2 separate regions of the Homo sapiens genome follow, and region 1 is linked to region 2. The links come from fine-mapping of genetic effects on gene expression. A gene starts in region 2. The other region holds a variant in brackets. All regions are shown on one strand. Distances are from middle to middle. Region 1 overlaps SH3BP2 (SH3 domain binding protein 2). Region 2 holds the start of SH3BP2 (SH3 domain binding protein 2).

Region 1 (9,458 bases), 37 kb after region 2:
AGGTGCCCCTGTGGGCTGAGGGGAGCCACACAGCCATGTTGTATCCAGCCGGGTCGCCTCCTCTGACCTTGGGAGTCACAGCAGAGCAGGCAGGGCAGTGAAGGTGGAGGGGTGCGGTGGGGCCCACCCTGGTGGCACCGTGCCCACCACAGCCCCGCTGACCTGCAGAGCTGGATGGCCTTGCTGCGCAGGGAGATTGGCCACTTCCACGAAAAGAAAGACCTGCCCTTGGACACCAGGTGAGCCCGGGCCCAGGGCATACCGGGCAGTGAGGGTCCCTGGGGCGCCTGGGCCTGACCCGGGTGTCCGCCTCCCAGCCCCGGGCTTGGCATAGAATTCCGTCCTTAAAGGTTTCCTGGAGGTGCCAGCTGGGCTGCGTCTCTCTGCTCCTGTCTACAGATAAACACAGATACAGGACAAGCACAGATGTTCACACACAGACGAGCGACACGCGGACACGCACACACAAACACAAGCAACACGCGGACATGCACACACACAGAGCAACACGTGGACATGCGCACACACACAGAGCAACACGTGGACATGCACACACACACAGCAACACGTGGACATGCACACACACACAGCAACACGCAGACATGCACACACAAACACAGAGCAACACACAGACATGCACACACACACAGAGCATGCACAGGTGTGCATGCATCTCTCTGCTCCTGTCTACCTCCAGCCCCATCTGTCACATCTGTTTCTGTGTTGCCGCCATGGGTAGTTCCTGTTAGGGGATCATGTGTGTTTATACGCCTGCCACCAGGGAGGCCTGGCATGGCAGCAGCTGGGCACTTTGGGTTCCCAGCCCCCTACGCCCACCCTGGCTCACTCAGAGTGAGACCAGAATGATTCTCCTGGCGGGGCGCCACTGGGCAGTCTGAGCCTTGGCAGCCTCCCCCGTGAGCTGGCCCGACGTGCAGCAGATACTCTCTGGATTGGGACTTCCTGGCCCGAGACGATGTGGAGGGAACAAACCTTCCTGTCCTTTCACAGGTGGGGACAGGAGGCCCAGGGAGGGCTGGGCACAGCCAAGGCTGCCCTGCAGGTCCCTGCCTGACTCCGGGCTCCCGTCCCCTGGTCCAAGCTGTTCAGCCTCGGGCCCAGCCCAGAGTCGCCCAAGCCCTCTTGAGGCAGGAGCAGGTGGAGACGTGGGCACAGTCAGGGCGGCCATCCTTGTGGGCCAGAAGGGGCACCTAGTGGAGGCACCACAGCCTCCAGTTCTTCTGTCTGTCCTTGTAACTGTGTGTGCATGTCCGCGTGTTGCTCCGTGTGTGTGCATGTCCGCGTGTTGCTCTGTGTGTGTGCATGTCCGCGTGTTGCTCTGTGTGTGTGTGTGCAATGTCCACGTGTTGCTCTGTGTTTGTGTGTGCATGTCTGCGTGTTGCTCTGTGTTTGTGTGTGCATGTCCGCGTGTTGCTCTGTGTGTGTGCATGTCCACGTGTTGCTCTGTGTTTGTGTGTGCATGTCCGCGTGTTGCTCTGTGTGTGTGCATGTCCGCGTGTTGCTGTTTGTGTGTGCATGTCTGCGTGTTGCTCTGTGTGTGTGTGCATGTCCGCGTGTTGCTCTGTGTGTGTGTGTGTGCATGTCTGCATGTTGCTCTGTGTGTGTGTGCATGTCTGTGTGTTGCTCTGTGTTTGTGTGTGCATGTCTGCGTGTTGCTCTGTGTGTGTGTGCATGTCCACGTGTTGCTCTGTGTGTGTGCATGTCCTCATGTTGCTCTGTGTGTGTGTGCATGTCCGCATGTTGCTCTGTGTGTGTGCATGTCCGCGTGTTGCTTGTGTTTGTGTGTGCGTGTCCGTGTGTCGCTCGTCTGTGTGTGAACATGTGTGCTTGTCCTGTATCTGTGTTTATCTGTATACTTCCATGTCTGTGTGACAGAGTCCTTGTGTCTGTGTGTCTACATGTCTGCGCGTGTCCCTGTGTCTTTGTGTATATATATCCATGCCTGTGTGCCTGTGTTCCTGCGTGTGCTTGTGTGTGCACGTGTGCATTTGTGTGTTTGTCAGAGTATGTGTGCATGTGTGTGTCTGTCAGCGTATCCATGTGTGCATGTGTGTGTCTGTCAGCGTATCCGTGTGTGCATGTGTGTGTCTGTCAGCTTAACCATGTGTGCATGTGTTTGTCAGTGTATCCGTGTGTGCATCTGTGTATCTGTCCATGTATCCGCGTGTGCCTGTGTGTACCTTTGTGTGAGCATCAAGGGACCTCCCAGGCCTGGTGCTCACCGTCCGCCCCAACGCACCCTGCATTGCAGCGACTCCAGCTCGGACACAGACAGCTTCTACGGCGCAGTTGAGCGGCCTGTGGATATCAGCCTTTCCCCGTACCCCACGGACAATGAAGGTGAGGTCTTTCTCCGCATCCACTGCCCGTTTGCCTCTCCCCACCTGGCCTCCTCTTGGCCGCTGTGGAGGAGAGGGAGGTGTGTTCGGCTGTGCTCCTTGCTCTGGCCCTTTGGCAGTGCGCAGTAGCATCCCTGGGCTCTGGCCTTCAGCGGCAGGGTCTGGACTCACAGTCCTCCCAGCAGGTGCTTGCCCCTTGCCTCCTGGACTCAGCCCCATGCATGGAGCATTGCTCGGAGACTGGGCCTGGGCCGGTTTGGCTCTCACCACCCCCCTCTCCCCATGCAGACTATGAGCACGACGATGAGGATGACTCCTACCTGGAGCCTGACTCCCCGGAGCCCGGAAGGCTTGAGGGTAGGTGGGGCGGGTGGGCCCGGGGAGCTCTGGGTGTGTAGGAAGCAGGGGCTGGGACCGGGAGCAGAGCCCCTCCGAGGCTGGGGATGCTGGCCCAGGTACCGCTCTGGGTGGCTTCCGCTTCCCTGCTGTGTCCCAAGTATTATGAGGATTGGAGCAGAAGAGGTGTAGCTGCTGCCACCTCTGCTCATTTCCTCCTCCCACCTCCCAGGAGGAGGGACAGGCACATGGCGATAAGTGGCAGGTGGAGCCGGGGTGGCCCTGGGGGTTAAGCATGGGGAAGGAAGGACGCTGAGGAGCGCGCAGGCTCAGGGCAGGTCCATGTCCCCATGGCTGCCAGCTTGTGTGGACACTGCTGCAGGCCAGGTCGTTGTCCCACCCCACCCCATCCCATCCCAGTGTCCACCTACCTCCTGCAGCACATGGCCTAGTCAAAGAGACAGGCTGATACAGGTGGTCACACGTGGATGACGGAAGCACGAGCTGGGTGGGGAGGACGTGTCTCTGTCCTCCTCTGTCGCCTCCCTCCCTTCCTCCCTCCCTATTGTCTCTCCAGCCCCCTCATCTTGTCAATTTCCTCATGTCTGGGGCTGATCCTTGATCCTTCCATTTTCCCTGCGTCCGCCCTGCCTCCTTGTTTTCCAGCCTCCTGTTCTCACTGACTTGGCCTCTGCCGACCCCAGCCCCTGACCCCGTATCCTCTCTGCCTCCCATCCACTCCCACCTTCAGGCTCCCGGGTCCAGCCCCTCTTCTCCTGCCGCTCCCTCCCTCCTTCCCTCTGGGGTCCCAGTGCCAACAGTCCTTCAGCCCACGAGGGTCTGCGGGCCGCTTGCCTCAGTTTCCTTCCATGCAGAGCTCTTGTCTCACAGTGTTCACCATGCCTGTCCCTTCGCCCACACACTACTGCCTTCCGTCTTAGCCTGGCTGGCCAAGCCTTGGTGAACTCAGACTCCGTCTGCCCAGCCCTGAGCTGCAGCCCAGTGAGGCTAGAGATGGGCCTGGGGAGCCACCAGTGCTCCTGCATGCTACTGCTCCACTCACCCTCCCTCTGTACCCCCTTCATCCTCTCCCCGAGACATTTCTCGTCCAGGACGCCTGTGGCCTCCCCATTCCCAGTTCCAGCGCTCAGTCCTGAGCCACACCAGCCTGGCGCCTGCCCTGTTCCTTGCCAGCCCGTCCTCCAGGCGCCCCGTGCTCCCGGGGTCCTCTTTCTCCTCAGCTCCTGTGCTGGCCCCATGAGGGATACCCGGGACTCAGACCTCACTCCTCTCCCGAATTCCCTGGGTGACAGCCTGGGTCATCTGCAGGCTGCCCGCTCCGAGTCATGTCCAGCCTGGATTTTTGAACTCTGCACACATTCCCTGACCCCGCATCCCCTGGCATCTCCCAGCTTTCTGGATATGTTCTGAGCAAACACGGGCCTTCACCTTCCTCCCAGCTGCTCCCCTCCCCTGTCCTTGGGAATTCCGTCCTCCCTCTCGCTCCAGCCGAGCCCTGAGATCCTTCTTGACTTCTCTTCCTTTCTCTTCCTTCCACCTCTGGGAACCTGATGGGCTCCTCAGGTGTCCTCTAGGCTTCAGGAAGCGTCCACAGGCTGCCATAGGGAGGATGAATGGGGAAGGCTGGGGGTGGTGGGTGGTCTGGGACCCTGGGGAAGGCAGGATGGGAGTGCTGGGTGCTGGGCTGCTGGGTGGGCAGGCTGTGGGGTGGGCCTACCATGGGTTGCACTCCTGGTTGGCCTGGCTGACCACTGCCAGCAGAGGATAGTGTTGGCCCAGT[C/G]TCTGTCAGGGTCCAACCCGGGTCTCTTTGCTCTGCAGATGCCCTGATGCACCCACCGGCTTACCCACCACCCCCAGTGCCCACGCCCAGGAAGCCAGCCTTCTCTGACATGCCCCGGGCCCACTCCTTTACCTCCAAGGGCCCCGGTCCCCTACTGCCACCCCCGCCCCCTAAGCACGGCCTCCCAGATGTTGGCCTGGCTGCTGAGGACTCCAAGAGGGACCCACTGTGCCCGAGGCGGGCTGAGCCTTGCCCCAGGGTACCTGCTACCCCCCGAAGGATGAGCGATCCCCCTCTGAGCACCATGCCCACCGCACCCGGCCTCCGGAAACCCCCTTGCTTCCGGGAGAGTGCCAGCCCCAGCCCGGAGCCCTGGACCCCTGGCCACGGGGCCTGCTCCACTTCCAGTGCTGCCATCATGGCCACTGCCACCTCCAGAAACTGTGACAAACTCAAGTCCTTCCACCTGTCCCCCCGAGGACCACCCACATCTGAGCCCCCACCTGTGCCAGCCAACAAGCCCAAGTTCCTGAAGATAGCTGAAGAGGACCCCCCAAGGGAGGCAGCCATGCCCGGACTCTTTGTGCCCCCCGTGGCTCCCCGGCCTCCTGCGCTGAAGCTGCCAGTGCCTGAGGCCATGGCGCGGCCCGCAGTCCTGCCCAGGCCAGAGAAGCCGCAGCTCCCGCACCTCCAGTGAGTTTGTGTGGCGGCTGCAAGCCCTGCCTCCAGCTACAGGGACCCTGGCCTGGCCTCTGACGGGCACTCTGCCCACCTCGCTCCCCTGGCACTCTTAGCCCACGACGGGGTACCAGGTGCAAGGGTAGGAAGGTTCCCGGTTGCCTCCAGTCCGCCTTGGTGGAACGTGGAGCATGTCCATGACTCAGCCCTGAAGCTTGCTGGAAATGCTTTGTTTTTTTTTCTTTTTGAGACAGGGTCTCACGCTGGCAACCAAGCTGGAGTGCAGTGGTGCGATCTCAGCTCACTGCAACCTCCACCTCCGGGGTTCAGGTGATTCTCCTGCCTCAGCCTCCCAAGTAGCTGGGACTACAGGCACCTGCCAACACGCCCGGCTAATTTTTGTATTTTTAGTAGAGACAGGGGTTTCACTATGTTGGCCAGGTTGGTCTTGAACTCCTGGTCTCAAGTGATCCGCCTGCCTCGGCCTCTCAAAGTGTAGAGATTACGGGCGTGAGCCACCGCGTCCTGCTGAAATGCTTTCTGCTTTATTTCTGGGAAGTGCCAGGAGACCAGTTTGTCCCCCACTCCCACAGAGTTACGCCAATGGCTGTGGTCAAAGGCATCTGGGACCCCAGGTGGGCTTCCTGCCTTGCCTGGCAGGCAAAGGGTCCAGGAACTGGAGGGGCAGGTTTCGCATGGGTGTGCTGGCCGGCACGCGCACCCCCGAATGCCCTTGCCCACGGTGCCCTTCTCCCAGGGCTCTGCGAACACCTCTGAGATGCCTGCTGCCTGTGTGGAAGTGCCTCTGAGCAGCCCTTGTCACACTCGTGGTTCTAGTTCACCAAGGGCTGCAGAGATGCAGATGTTCGGAAGTCACGTTTTTCCATGACTGTGGGGATAGCGGTTCCAGGGCTCAGCCTCACCCACAGGCTGGCCTCCCATGCTGGCGTGGCCCGTTAATCCTCCCTAGAGCCTTTGAGGCTTTGCTGAGCAGGACCGGCTAGCCACACAGGGAGGCGTGCAGGGACGCCATGGGCGTCCTTTGGGGTCACACTGCATTGTTCATCCAGTTCACGTCCACTCCCCTGTGGCTCTGAGTGGGCTGTGATTTGGCCATGACCGGACCTCCCCTCCCCACGAGCATCCAGAGCACTTGTTGACGGTGTGATGACACTGAGCTTGGGAACCCTGGACTCCCTTGCCAGCATCCATGGCAGCCCTGACCCCTGACTCCGGTGTCGGGCGATTCCTGCTGTCCCAGGGCAGTCGGCACGAGCCCTACCCGGATCTCTGTTGTCCTGAGCTTTTTAGGGTCACAGGGGCCATAGCAGGCAGCTTGCCGTCCTCACACAGAGGGTGGAGTGGGGAGGGGAGCAGAGGGTGGCCGCCCCGTGTCTGACAGTGAAATGGTCCTGCCTTCCTCTCCCTGCCCCTCCAGGCGATCACCCCCCGATGGGCAGAGTTTCAGGAGCTTCTCCTTTGAAAAGCCCCGGCAACCCTCACAGGCTGACACTGGCGGGGACGACTCGGACGAGGACTATGAGAAGGCAAGGCTGAGCGGCAAGCCTGGGTCCCAGTGGCCAGTAGGTGGACAGGTGGTGGGAAAGCCATAGGCCAGGGCGGCCCCTCACAGACCGTCCTGAGCAAGGACCCCCCGAGAACCCGGGAGCCTAGGGGGACACAGCACCATGTAAAGCCCCGGATCCCGGCACCGGGTGGCCACCGTCCGGGGAGTGGTGGTGCGGGTGGATCACTCCGACGTTGGCACTGACACCGTCAGCCTCTTGCAGGTGCCACTGCCCAACTCGGTCTTCGTCAACACCACGGAGTCCTGCGAAGTGGAAAGGTCAGCACAAAGCCCTGTGTGTGCTGGGTCCTCCGCCATGCCCGGCTTCCTGCTTCTGTGTCCCTCTCACTAGCTTCCGTGTTGGGGAGTTGCTGGCACAAGTTCATGGCCCTGCGTGCAGCAGAAACCAGAGGAGTGGACCTCCCTGCTCTGTCCCATGCCCAGCTGGCACCCTGGCTGGCCAGGGCTCTGCTGGGCTGCTTCTGTCAGCCTCACGGCAGCCCGACGTGCTCAGCTCCTGAGACCTACAACAGCGAGAGGACAGAAAGCCAGGCTTGGGAGCGGGGCGGGAAGGTCCGTGTGAAAGCTGCCCGAGGAGGACTCACCCGCTAATATGACTGTCTTATTTTAGGTTGTTCAAGGCTACAAGCCCCCGGGGAGAGCCCCAGGATGGACTCTACTGCATCCGGAACTCCTCTACCAAGTCGGGGAAGGTAGGCGCCAGGGGAAGATGCCCCAGGGCCCCTCTGGCTCTCCACACACCCAGGCTGTGGGTGGGCCCAGGACTCCACAGTTCCTAAACCACTCCCCTTGTGGACTCTTACTTGGTGTCTCAGCTGAATTCTCTTCCCAGCAGCACCCCCCAATCTATTCCCTAATAGATCTCCATCTGCAAATTGGGGGCCATGATGGCCACCTCCCAGTGGGGGCCAGGACTCGGGTGGGGTAGGGCTCATGCTCTGGGGTGGCGGAGGCCACATGGGGCAGGGGAACGCCAGGTCTGCCCGTGTCCCTCCGAGCGTGAAGTTGTGACCTCACTGAGCCATGCTCTCCCGGGTGTGTCGGAGTGGTTATTGGTGGTTATGAGCTGTTGCTCATCAGAGGCTCTCTGAGGGCTGCCAGTGTCGCCCCCGCTGTCCTTGTGCAGGTGGTCTGGAGTCCCTCCCCGCCCCCCGAGGGCCACAGGACCCAGCCTTGATGGTTCTGCCCCCCTATCCCCAGCCCATGGTCTCCCGAGGCTGGTCCCGCTGTTTCTCAGGGAGCCGTCAGCCTCCCGCTTCCGTCCTGTAGGTCCTGGTTGTGTGGGACGAAACCTCTAACAAAGTGAGGAACTATCGCATTTTTGAGAAGGTGAGAGGGCTCTGAGTGGGACGGGGACCCTGGCCGCATGGCCTGGCAAGGGGCAGGGCAGAATCTCCCTGATGAGGCATAGGCAGCGGGTAGACTGAGACTGGCACCTCCAGGATACCGCCCTCCCCTTCCCCTCCACCATCGCTCACCCCCCACCCCTCCTGCTCAGCCTCCCTCCTCTCGTGGCCTACCTTTGTCCTCCACTGACCCTAGTGGGGATGGGCGGTCAGCCATAGACCCTGGGTTGCTTGTCTTGTCTTTTTCTTTTTGCGGGGACAGGGGTCTCACTGTCTTTCTCAGGCTGGTTTCAAATTCTGGGGCTCAAGCAATCCTCCCACCTCGGCCTCCCACAGTGCTGGGATTACAGGCGTGGGCCACCGTGCCTGGCCTAGGTTCATTTCCTGACCTTGTCTGAAGTGCTCTGGGTGCAGGCTCCTGGACATGGAGGACGGAGGGGAAGTGAGGTGGGAACATGGAGAGCACAGGCCTGATGCGGAGGCCACCTTGGGGGCACCACCGACAGCCAGGGGCCAGCCTGGTGATGCCGCTGTTGATGCTGCTGCCTTGTTTTACAGACGGGGAGACTGAGGCCTAGAGCCGCAGAGTGGCCTGGCCCTGCTGACGCTCCCCCTTCTCTTCCCCCACAGGACTCTAAGTTCTACCTGGAGGGCGAGGTCCTGTTTGTGAGTGTGGGCAGCATGGTGGAGCACTACCACACCCACGTGCTGCCCAGCCACCAGAGCCTGCTGCTGCGGCACCCCTACGGCTACACTGGGCCTAGGTGATGGCAGTCCATGTGGCTGCCAGGCCAAGGCAGTCACAGGGGCCCTGACCCCAGGCCACACAGACGGACATGGGCCCACATGGGAGGGTGAGCAGGAGCAAGGCTGTGCTTGCCTAGGGCCTCTGTGATGGACATCTCGTAGGACCCAGCCAGTCTCATCCAGCAGGTTGGGTTCTAGGGCTGAACCAGGCGCCAGGCTCCAGAGGACGAAGGGACTCTGTTGCCCCACACTAACTTGCCCTGTCCCAATCCCAGAAACCCAGGACCAAGCTGTGCCTGGGCTCCAAGGACAGGAACACTGGTCCCCCCATCACACTCACCCCTAAGTGGGCTGGGAGCCAGGCAGGGCCAGGGCAGCTGGGTGGGGGCCGGGGCTGGCCCTGGGACCCCCAGGAACGCTAAGACACAGGCTCCAGTAGGGGCTGTTGCCTCCAATAAAGCAGCAGTGAGCTTTGCCTTGGTGGCTGGGGCTTGATTGGGAAGGAGGGGATTACCAGCTTACTGGGTGCCCATGCTGATGTCTAAGTGGTGACCGCAGCAGTACCCGGGAACCCCAACAGTTGGTTGTCTTGTCTTCCAGGG
Region 2 (10,596 bases):
GGGCTAGAGGTGTGGCAGCCAGGCAGGCAGGGCAGGCCCTCCTGGGGAGTGCTGGTGGCCTGGGGGCGCTGGCTGGCCCTTGACCTGGCGTGAACTCTGGCTCTATTTCCCTCACTCTGCCCTCTAGCGCTGTGCCCCTGCCAGGAGAGTCCTCCCAGGTTGTGGGAGCCCAGCTCAGTCCTACTGTCCCCAAAGAGCCTTCGCCGACTTCGTCAGCCTTTACCAGCTCTCAGGCTGGCCAGGAAGCCAGGCCTGTCCCAGGCACGAGGGGCAGTGGGCAAGCTGGCTGTGGGCCCCACCCTCCACAGGCTCACTGAGGGCAGCTGGCCAGAAGCCCACAGGCTGGGGCCACCCACTGAGGATGTTTTCTGAGCAGGGCCCCGTGTTGGACCATCCTGGGGACCAGAGCCACTGGAAGAGCCCTGACCTCAAGGCGCCCCAGCCTAGGGGGTGGGATGGGGTGGTGAGGAAGGCTAGTTCTGGGCAGTGTGGTGGGATGTAGGTGCACATCTGGGCATGACTGTGGGGGTCTGGGGAGGTCCCCTGGGGTAATGCTACTGAGCTGGCTTTCCCGGGATGACGCTGGAGGGCAGTGGAGGCAGAGGGGAGGCCAGTGTGCAGGGCACTCTGGCGTGGGGTCTGGCTGAGACCTGAGCGGGCCTCCATGCTTCCACCCCTCAACCAGCACACACGTCCTACCATCCCACCCAACCTCCACTGCTCCCCCTCCAGCCCCAGGCTGCTCCTTTCCCCTTCATTCGGTAAAGGAGAAAATATTCCCCATCCCACCCAGGGCAAGGCGTGAGGCAGCCAGGCCTGGCCTGGGATGCAGAGATGGCCCAGAGCCTGGGAGGGGCCACTCCTGTCCAGCCTGCCCTCCCTGCCAGAGTGCCTGCCACCAGCCCAGCCTCCTGGGAGAGATGCCAGCCCCCAGCCCTGTCCTCAGAGCCAGACTGATGCCTGCGTGTGAGGCCCAGCCTGCCTCCTCAAACTCCTCTTCCCATGAGCCACAATCCTCCCCCACACCCCCTCTGCCCCTCCCTCCAGTGCTGGGCTGTGTGGCCAGGGGACTGGACTGTGTGGCAGGATGACTCCACACAGCCTCCCCCAGGGAGTGGGGATTGGGGGAGGTAGGGTGGGAACCTGTCCCCTCCTATCCCCAGGGAAGCAGGTGGGAAGCCTGTGGCCTTGGCCCTACTCAGGAATTGCCTCTCCTAGCGAGGCGGCCTGGTGAGGTGGTACACTGTATCACTGTGGGGCCACTCCTGGGGACAGGGACAGGTGGGAGGGCAGGGTCCATGCTTCCAAGGTCCTCTGGACACGGGACCCAGGTGGCAGCTCCAAAACCTGGCTAGGATGGGCACAGTGGCTCATGCCAGTAATCCCAGCACTTTGGGAGCTGAGGTGGGTGGATCGTTTGAGCCCAGTAGTTCGAGACCAGTCTGGGCAACATGGTGAGACGCTATTTCTACAAAAAAATAAAAAATATAAATAAATAAAAATTAGTTGGGTGTGGTGGCACATGCCTATAGTCCCAGCTGAGGTGGGAGGCTCACCTGAGCCCAGGAGGTTGAGGCTGCAGTGCCACTGCACTCCAGCCTGGGCAACAGAGTGAGACCCTATCTCAAAACAAAAGAACAAAAACAAAACCTACCTAGCCCCTTCCTTGGGGCTGCCCCTTGAGGCCTTTGTCTGTTCATTCACCAATCATGCACTGGGAGTCTATTTTGTAACTCAGGTGCCCTGGAAGCAGAGCCCAGACCAAGGGAAGCGAGGGGTCCAGGCACACCCGCCAAGGGTGATCTAGGGGCAGGAATGGCAAGTGCAAAGGCCCTGAGGTGGGAATGTGTCTGCGGTGCTGGAGGAGACAGGAGGCCAGTGTGGCCAATGCTAAGCGGGGCTATGGAGAGAGAACTCAGGGAGCAGGCAGGTGGCACAGGCTCGGTCTGGGCCCTGCCCATGCAAGGATAGAAGGCATTTGCCTTGGGGGAGGTGGGATCTACAGAAAGTTCTGAGTGAAGAAGTGACATGACCTGACTCACACTGTGACTGCACCCCTCTGGTGTGATGATGGACACTGCCAGGCAAGCGCAGGAGAGGGAGGATGAGGCAGGCAGGGGCTGAGAAAGGCAGGATTCCAGGTGTGCTTTGCCAACAGAACCTTCAGGGCGGACGGGATGTGGGGCGAGCAGAGAGGCATCAGTGCGGACGACTCCAGGGTTGCTGGCCCAGGGAAGGAAAAAGAGACTTGGCAGGCGCATGAAGCCCCCTGCTGGGACGCCTGTGACACGTAGACCAGCGGCAGATCTTGCCCTCGCCATCCTAACCGTCAGCCTCACCCTCAGCAGGTCCTGCCCTACCCCCCAGACAGCAGCTGCCTCTGCCTGTTCTGGGTCCTGCCAAATCAGTGGCATGGCCGATGGCACACGGGGGATGGGTGTGGCGGGGGACCGGCCCCCTTCTCTTTGGCCTTATTCTGTGGGTGTGATTGGGGCATCACCATGGGCTTCTACCCCGGATGTGCCCTGTGGAGGTCTGCTCCCCAGCTCCCTGCCGGCCAGGGGTCCTCGCCTTACCTCTGCTCACCTGCCCTGCATACCCTCCCAGCAGGCGAGGTCATCCTCCTCACCCATCCCTGCTCTGTCAGCCTCAGCGGAACCCCTGGGTGCCCAGAGGCTCTGGCCACAGCCTCCAGCAGCTTCTTGCTCGGAGGGGCTGCTGGGAGCTGCCCTGAGGCCCCAACTAGGAGTTCCTTCCTCCCACGCCCTGGGGTTGGACTGGTAAGGGGGGAGAAGGGGAGGAATATGAGGTGTGGGATTCTCCCCACGGTGGAGGCTGCACCCTGTTCCCCCTGTTTGGCTGAGGTGCCCTGCACAGAGGTGCTTTGCATTTCTGGGTGATCATTCTCTAGGCGCCTGGTCCGTCCACACTGTCTGCAGTGACCCTGCTCCGTCAACTCTGAGCTTGGCATCTGAGGCCAGCCCTGTACACCCTGCCCTGTAGTCAGGCCCTGGCGGGGCCGCACCGACGTTTGGCTTTGCTCCACTCCCCTCCCGGTCTCTGCCCCTTTCCCCAGCTGGTCCCCTGGGAACAGGACACTTGCTGTGACCCAATGGCATCTGCTCATTTGTCCATTTGCTCCTCTCGTGAGCCACAAGGGTAGGGACTTCCTTGTATCATCTTGGGTCCCCGGGGTCTGGTGTGGGGCCAGGCATTTATTTAGCTGAACTGGACATCAGGGACATCAAGATGTACAGCCCCAAGGTCATGAGTGTTTTGTCAGGAGCCTTAGACCAGTCTGGCCCAGCCTGGAGCTCCCTCCGCATGTGGCCTCTTACAGGAGTGACGCAGCCCCATGCGGTGCTAACAGTGGCAGCACTGAACGTCGGATGGGGCTGAGCCCAGCCACTTCCACAATGGCTGTAGTTCCTATCTCTTCCTCCCTGCTAGGAAAATGTGAAATAGCCCAGAGTGGGGGGTGGGCAGAAGAGTTGCAGGCTACCCAATGCTGGGATGAGCAGAGTTGAGACCTGGGGAGCCAGGCCCAGGACACTTACAGGTGGGGATGTGAGCAGGCACCCCAGAGAGTGAGCACCCCAGCCAGCCAGCACCCATCTACTCCCTCACTGGGGTCTAAGTTCAGCCCCGAGAGCTAGGCTGTAGGTGGGTAGAGTCACAGCCCCAGCGCCGGTGTGAGGGGTGGCCCTGGGCCAGGTAGAGTGAGTATCTGCCTGCTGTCATGCCCCATCCACTTCTGCCGCCTCCCCAGTAGAGGACCCCCTCCATTTCACAGATGGGGAAAAGGGGCCCTGTTGTCTGAAGACTCTCCCATATCCTCCCCTGCCTCTGCCATCCCCTGCTTTGTCCCTTCCCTTCCAGAGGCCCTGCCTTGGTCCTGGTCACTTCCTGGTAGGCACTGGCTCTTCCTCTATGCCTGGGCTCAGGGCCTGGCCACCTAGTTTTCTGACTCCTCCCACTTACTCCCCTCCCCAGTTAACCTCTCTGATCCCAAGTGTGTCTCTCCAGCAGGGAGGAGGGCTATTGCAGCCAGGGATCCCCTTTCTGAGGCTTGGGACCCATTATTGGGCAGCTCTGGGACAGGTGGACGGTGACTTGGCCCACACTCGGTCCAGCTGCAACCCTGAGAACCCGCTTGGTTTGGCTGTGTCTCCTGGAGGCCCTCAGGTATTTCAACCTGTAGGACCCAAACCCAGTCCTTCACCTGCTGCAGGGCCAGCCCTGGACACCCCTGCCCCTGCCTGATTTGGAGCAGCCAATTCAGCCCCTGTCATTGGACTCTGGCCTCTTGTGCTCAGTACAGAGGGTCAGACCTTGGCCGCCTGCCTGGACAGGGCCAGGTCACCACCACCCACCCCCAGCTCCCTTGGGTTCCCAGCAAGATCCTGTCCTTCCTCTACTCACAGCTTCCTGGGCTCTGGGACCTGGGGTCCAGTCCCCACTCCTCATGGGGAGGAGTCCCCCCACGCCCCAAGCAGTTGACTCCCGCACTGGTGGGGGGTCCGCTCGCCCTCAAGCTCTGCAGGCCCAGCTTGGTCTCCCCAGCCTCTTCACTTTCTCCACGGCTCCCTCCACCTACCTGGCCCTGAGAGCTCCCCAGGGAAGCCATTTCCTCCCAGGAAGCCCCTCCTCTTCTCGCCCCTGCCCTTACACCAAGGCATCTGGGCCTACTCTTAGGGAGAGGGTGATGGTGGAGGAAAGGGAGCCTCAGAGGAGGCCAAGTGTAAAGCACCCGGTCTCCTGTGCCTCCCAGCCCCAAGACGACCTCTGGGCCACCGGAGTCCAGACCTGGTCCAAGAGGCGAGGTCCCCCTGGGAAGTGCCTGAAAAGTACCCTGGAGGACATTTGGAAACAAAGACAAGGTTTCCTGGTGCCCAGCAAGCCCTCCCCCACCTCCCCTGCTCCTGTCTTGGCCAGGGCCTAAGTCGCACTCACGGGGCAGGGGTGGGGCCGCCCAGGATCAGGACCACGGGGCTGGGGGGGTGGACAGCGCCCTTTCCACCTGGGTCGCTGGGCACTGGGGTGTCACTGGGAGGGACACGCAGGAGGGACAGACACGCTACCTCACTCACGGGCGAGAACTAAGCACCTACTGTGGACCCGGCGTCTAGGCCCGCGACAACGCCAGTCTTCGCCCCCCAGGGGCCTCGTCCCGGGGCCGCGGAGGCCACGTGCAGTTCCCCGCCCACCCTGAGGTACCGGCCCCGCCCCACGCCCAGCTCGGACCTCCAGGATTGCGGGACCCGCCGGGGAGGGGCGGGGCCGGGGCGGGGCCAGGAGGAGGGCGGACTGGGCGGGCGCGGGCGGGACGGAGCTGCGGCGGCGGCGGGTCCCGCGGGCGGGAGCGCCTGGCGGCCGAGTCAAGCCGCCGCCTCGACCCAGGGCCCGCGGGCCAGGAGAGCGCTCGGCGGGTAAGCCTCGGCGGCGGGTCTCGGCGGGTCTCGGGGGTCTCGCGGGGGGGCGGTCTCCGCGTCTGGAAGGGGCTCGGCGGGCCTTGGCGGTCTGGGGGCTCTCGGCGGGTCTCGGGGGTCTCGGGGGAGTCTCGGGGTCCCGACAGGTCTCGGCGGGTCTCGGGGGTCTCGGGGGAGTCTCCGGGGAGTCTCAGGGGTCCCGGCAGGTCTTGGCAGGTCTCGGGGGAGTCTCAGGGTCCCGGCAGGTATGGGCGGGTGTCGGGGGTCTCGGGTGCGCAGCAGCCTCCCCCGGGCCCCGGGGCCTCCGTGTCCTTGCCAAAGGACGCACGGGGCCTGGGCACGGCGGGCAGTGCCCGAGGGAGCGCGGCTTCGGGGCGGGGGCCGGGTGTCCCTTGCCGGGGGCTCAGGGGTGGGAGGCGGTGCGACGCGTCTGTTTCGCACCCCTCGCGCCCCTCTGGCCCCGCGGCGGGGCCCCTTTACGCGACCCTCCCCACAAGACTCAAAGGCTGCGGCGGGCACTCGCTCTCCGCCCTTCCCGGAATCCAAACTTCCCTCTGCAGCGGCCGCGCTTCACGGAGGGCAAGAAAAGCCGCCCACTGGCGCTGATTCACACTGAAGTGTGAGTGACTGATAGCCGGGCGTCTGAGACTCTCATGGGCAACAGGGAATCTCAGGGGTGGCAGAGGGACTGGAGGAGTTAGGGGGCGGGGACAGCCCCTTCCACCTGTACGCTGGCCTCCCTGCAGCCCAGCACTTTCCCGCTGCTCTGGGCCTCGGCTCCCTGGGGGTATTGAGGGCCTGAGCCCTGCTGTGGGGAGCCTTCTGCTGGTGCTCCTTTCCGTGAGCACCTCCTATCCCCTCTCTGTGCCTCAGTTTGCTCATCTGTTGACACTGGGGACAGCTGTGCCTCCTGGTCTAGTGGCCACACTTAAGTCCTTCGAATTGGCTGTGGCCAGGGGCGGGTACTCCGTGTGGGCTGCTGGGGTGGACAGCCTGCCTGGATGACATGTGTGTGGCCTTGCAGGTGACATGGGCCGGTGATGCAATGTGTAGAATTGTTTCCACAACCGCCTGAAGGCAGGGCCCACAGCCTCCTCCTTGCCGAAGCAAGCCTCTGGGTTCAGGTCAGCCCTGCACCAACTCCATGAGCCTGGACAAGCTCCTGCCCTCACTGGCTCAGGCCCTGTGGGACCAGAGGAGGGGCTGGGCTCCACCCCCTCCTGGTTCTTCCCACTCTGTCCACTGTCTCCTCTACGTAGACACCGTCGAAGGGCCCTCTTGGAGCCCAACCTCAGGGCCCCACTCCAGGCACTCCACTCCTGGCAGGACAGGAGGCCTGGGACGAGGGCTGCAAGGGAGTGAGGATTCTGTCTATCCCCTCTCCCTGCCACCCGCCAGGCTCCCTTTGCCTGGCTCTGTGCCCTGCGTTAGGCACACCCTGGAGGGGGCAGGCAGAAGGAAGACAGATAGGCAGCCGTGTCTAGGAACTGCCAGCCAGGGCCATCTGGTGAGAGGGGTGCTGACAGGGGACCTGGCCTTTCAGGGAGTCCCCAGGCCTCCAGGATCATGGGGGAGCCCACCAAGGAGGCTGGCCTGAAGAGGCAGACAGAGGGAGGACAGGCTCTGGGCCTGCCTTGGCCCTTTCTGCCCACATGGACAGAGGAAGCAGGGTGCTGAGTCAGCTGGAGCTCCCCACCCCCCAGGGATGCACGCACACAAGCAGGCCCACAGACGGGAAGTCCAGGGGCCCAGAGAGACGAGATGGCCAGCCTTGGTTCCTGAGGGGCAGGGAGGAAGGGCGCAAACTCAGCCAGGATCTTGGGTGTGAACTCAGATGCCACCAGTTTCCAGCTGTGTGATCATGGCCAGGAGGCTTCCCCCTGCCACCCCTCCGTTTTCTCATCCATGACCTGAGGGCTGTGAAGCACTTTGTACCTGGTGGGTGGCTATGAGTGTCCGTAGGGGGGATGGTGGTGGTGGTGACATGTGCTTGGTATTCAGTGACAGTGGGTCGCTGAGGGTGCTCTCCCTGGTCCTCAGGGCCGCTGTATGTCCTGTTTTGGGTGGGGGCAGGGACTGGCCTGGAGAGGCCTGGGTAAAGGCCAAGGCTCCCAGGTTCCTGCCCACATTGGACTAAGGCCTGAGTCCATCAGGAGTGGCCAGTGTTGGGCAGCCCCTGGGTCTTCCTGCGTTCTGTCCTCAAAAGCTCCCTTGTGGGGACACCCCAGGTCAGTGACTATGTGTGGCAGGCTCTGCCCTCCTCACTCTCTGTCCTCTCTTGACCTCATGATCTGCCCACCTCCCAAAGTGCTGGGATTACAGGCGTGAGCCCCCACGCCTGGCAGAGTATATAGTTCTTTAATAACCGGGTGGCTTGGCCATCACTGTGCAGCCTGGGTGGGTGAGGAGAAGGGCAGGCTGGCGGGGAAAAGACGGGGAATTTGCCACAAGGTGAGAGCTGTCCTACCCCAGACGCAGTGGAGCGGCTCCCACCCCTCGGGCCAATGAATACAGGGTGGGCCGTCAGGAGGAGGGATCTGAGCCGGGCGGGCAGCCATGCAGGTACAGACAGACTAAGCCAAAGGCGGGCGGTAGGGAGGGTGGGAGACCAGTTTGACGGGAGTGGCCTTTGCATGCCAGGTGTGGTGAGGGTATGGAGGGGCCTGGGAGGCAAGGAGAAGGGGCCGTGCAGACCCTGGAATCCTTCCTCCAGGATAGGCGGCTCCTCCCCAGAAGGCCTCTGCATTCTTCTGGTGGCCCTGTCTGGACACCGAGGGGCTGGAGACAGTCCCACGTGTGGGCTGCCTAAGTCCCAGAGGGGGTGGTAGGGAGCATTTCAGGCTCACTGGCTGGCCCCCTTCCCTGGGGCACTGGACCCTCCTCACCACCCCTTGGCCTGTGCACGGGAGGGTAGACAGGATGGTGCCAAGAGCAAGGGACTGGCCCTCAGCCACGGGCCAGGAGACCTGAGCCTTGTAGGCGAATTGCACTTCCTGACCCTCAGTTTCCTGATCTGCAAAACGGGATGACAGAAGTCCCTGGCTCTGGACCACGCTGCTGGATTTGGGTTCCGTGCCGGGCCCCTGACTACACTCATCCTTCAAGGGTGACGCGAGAGAAGCACGTGCCCAGGTTCGGGGCGGGTGGAGACCTGGGTCAGACAGGAGTTCGAGGTGGTGCAGGCTCCCAGGAGGGGAGAAAGGTGCCCTCCCCCAACCTTCTCTCTTCTCCCCAGGCTCTGTAACTTCCAAGGCCATGAGAGTGGTCAGGCCCTGCTTGGTTTCCCGGCCCCCGATCACAGATCGTGCTGGAACTGCTGGCCCCAACGCCCTGAGGTGACTGGCCCTTTCTTCATGGATTCCGGTCACATCTGGTCCATCTTTGTCAGCTGGCCTCTGGGAAGAATGTGGGCTCGGCCACCTGGAGCAGTTGCCTGGGGAGATCAGAGGAGCCCTGAGGGGTTGGCAGAGCGCCCTCGTGGTATCCATACCCCCATCCCTGTAGCTGAGCTGATTCCAAGAAGTGCCCTCTGCTTCCTTGTGAATCAGATGTTTACTGCGCTCCTGCTGAGCCTGCTCCAGGCAGCTGGGTGGGGCGTAGGGTGCCTGTCTGCTCAAGCCTGCAGAGGGAGGCCAGCTCCCCACCCCAGGGTCAGCCAGGCTGGCAGGCAACAGCCTCAAGAAGGCAGTGTGCGTGCCATGGCACACGGGGCTGAGGCCGCGAGGCAGGGGCCGAGGGAAGCGGCACAGAGCTTCTCTCAGGCACCAGAGGGGAGCTGAGTTCTGGGCTCAGAGCAGGCTTCGTCTGAGGGCTTCAGCGTCCTCCTTGTGAAATGGGGTGAAAGTAGGTCTAACTCATGGGAGGCCAGATCCCCAGGCCCGAGCTAGGGCCTCCCTGCCCTTGACACTGTGTGAATGGGCAGCTCCGTTTGGGGGAGTTCCTTCAGCCTCGATCCAGGGGTGTTGTAATCTAGTGATGCTCTTCTGTGGCATTTGAGGGTCCTGGGTCCCCATGCCCTGCAGCCCTGTCCACTGTCCTGAGCTAGGCATAGGGGTGGGCCCTTGCTGCTGGCTGCCCCTGGACAAGGTGGGAAGGGATCAGGGGTCATTCTGGGAGCCTGGAATGCTGGGCGGTCCTTGGCTTTTTCTCAGCCTTGGGAGTCTGGGGCAGTGGTGCGCCTTTACCACCCACCCTGGTTTCTGCCTCTGGGGCAGTGGTGGACCTCCTTCAGAAGGCTGCTGCCCAGCCCCGGGCCCCACTCATGCAACACTGGGTGCCTGTGTACTGGGCCCTGGGCTAGGCATGCACTGCAAGAGCAGACAGGCCACAGGTCAGAGGGCAGGACCGCTGGCAGGTGCCCATGGGTAGCAGCTCACCTGCCTGGCCCACCTTGCCACTCTCTCCCTTAGAAGCAATTTCAGCTGAAGACATAAGTGTCTGTCCTGCTTGGTGCTCAGGGTACCCTCCCTGGCCACCCCCAACTCCACCCTGAGCTGGGTGCCTTCCTGAGCCCCCAGCCTGGTCTATGGCCACCATGCATGTTGACCCATCCATGGTGACCTGTCCGCCTGCCCCTCCTGCTTGGGAACTCAGGAAGGTCAGGGTCGCGTCTGAGAGCCCATGCCCTGGTGGTGCCCACGTGGGCCTGTCCCAGAGGAAGGGTGAGGGGAGTGCCGGCTCTCCCAGCCTCCCACTCCTGGGCAGGGAAGTGGCGCGGGCAACGGGCGGGCTGTGCCAAGCTCTTTGAAGGTGGCTTGTCACTCCCCCCACCTGTGTTTAACTCTACTGAGCATCAGAGCCTAATGTGCCAGTCAGCCTGGCAGCTGCCGCCCAGTTGGTGGAGTTTCCAATCAGATAATATCAGACTGTTGTGCTTTGGTCTCCCACGAAACTCTTCAGGTTTCCATCACAGCCTCCTCCCTTCCCCCTGCGGGCTGCGCTGTGACAGCCACCGCTGCCTGCCACCCGGCAGCAGGGACCCAGCTGCTTCTGGGCCTGGTCTCGGTGGCCCTGGCAGCGGTAGATAGGGAGGACCAAAGCCTGGTGAGGAAGAGCCGCCGAGCGGAGTCGGTGTCCCCTGTCCTCTCCCTGAACGAAAGTGCTTTCTTTCTCTGTAGCTGCTCTTCCTAAACGTGTGTTGGCTTGAGATTGGAGTTAGCCTGGCCTA

What was found. PIP is the estimated chance that this variant, and not a neighbour inherited with it, causes the effect.
Region 1: its variant is fine-mapped to the expression of SH3BP2 in whole blood (TOPMed, PIP above 0.99).

What each region holds. Positions count from the first base shown.
Region 1 is chr4:2,824,958-2,834,415 of GRCh38, forward strand. SH3BP2 (SH3 domain binding protein 2) reads left to right here. Exons shown (of 13, transcript NM_001122681.2): 5 at 169-239; 6 at 2,273-2,361; 7 at 2,649-2,717; 8 at 4,536-5,190; 9 at 6,614-6,722; 10 at 6,966-7,021; 11 at 7,374-7,455; 12 at 8,033-8,092; 13 at 8,740-9,458. The coding sequence ends at 8,877. Among named protein-coding and RNA genes, the nearest start is that of ADD1, 14 kb to the right of the region's middle. RefSeq lists enhancers at 992-1,878, 1,879-2,764. The variant C/G (reference allele first, on the strand shown) is at 4,498.
Region 2 is chr4:2,787,710-2,798,305 of GRCh38, forward strand. SH3BP2 (SH3 domain binding protein 2) reads left to right here and starts at 5,376. Exons shown (of 13, transcript NM_001122681.2): 1 at 5,376-5,429. RefSeq lists enhancers at 1-49, 173-807, 390-449 and a silencer at 5,094-5,443.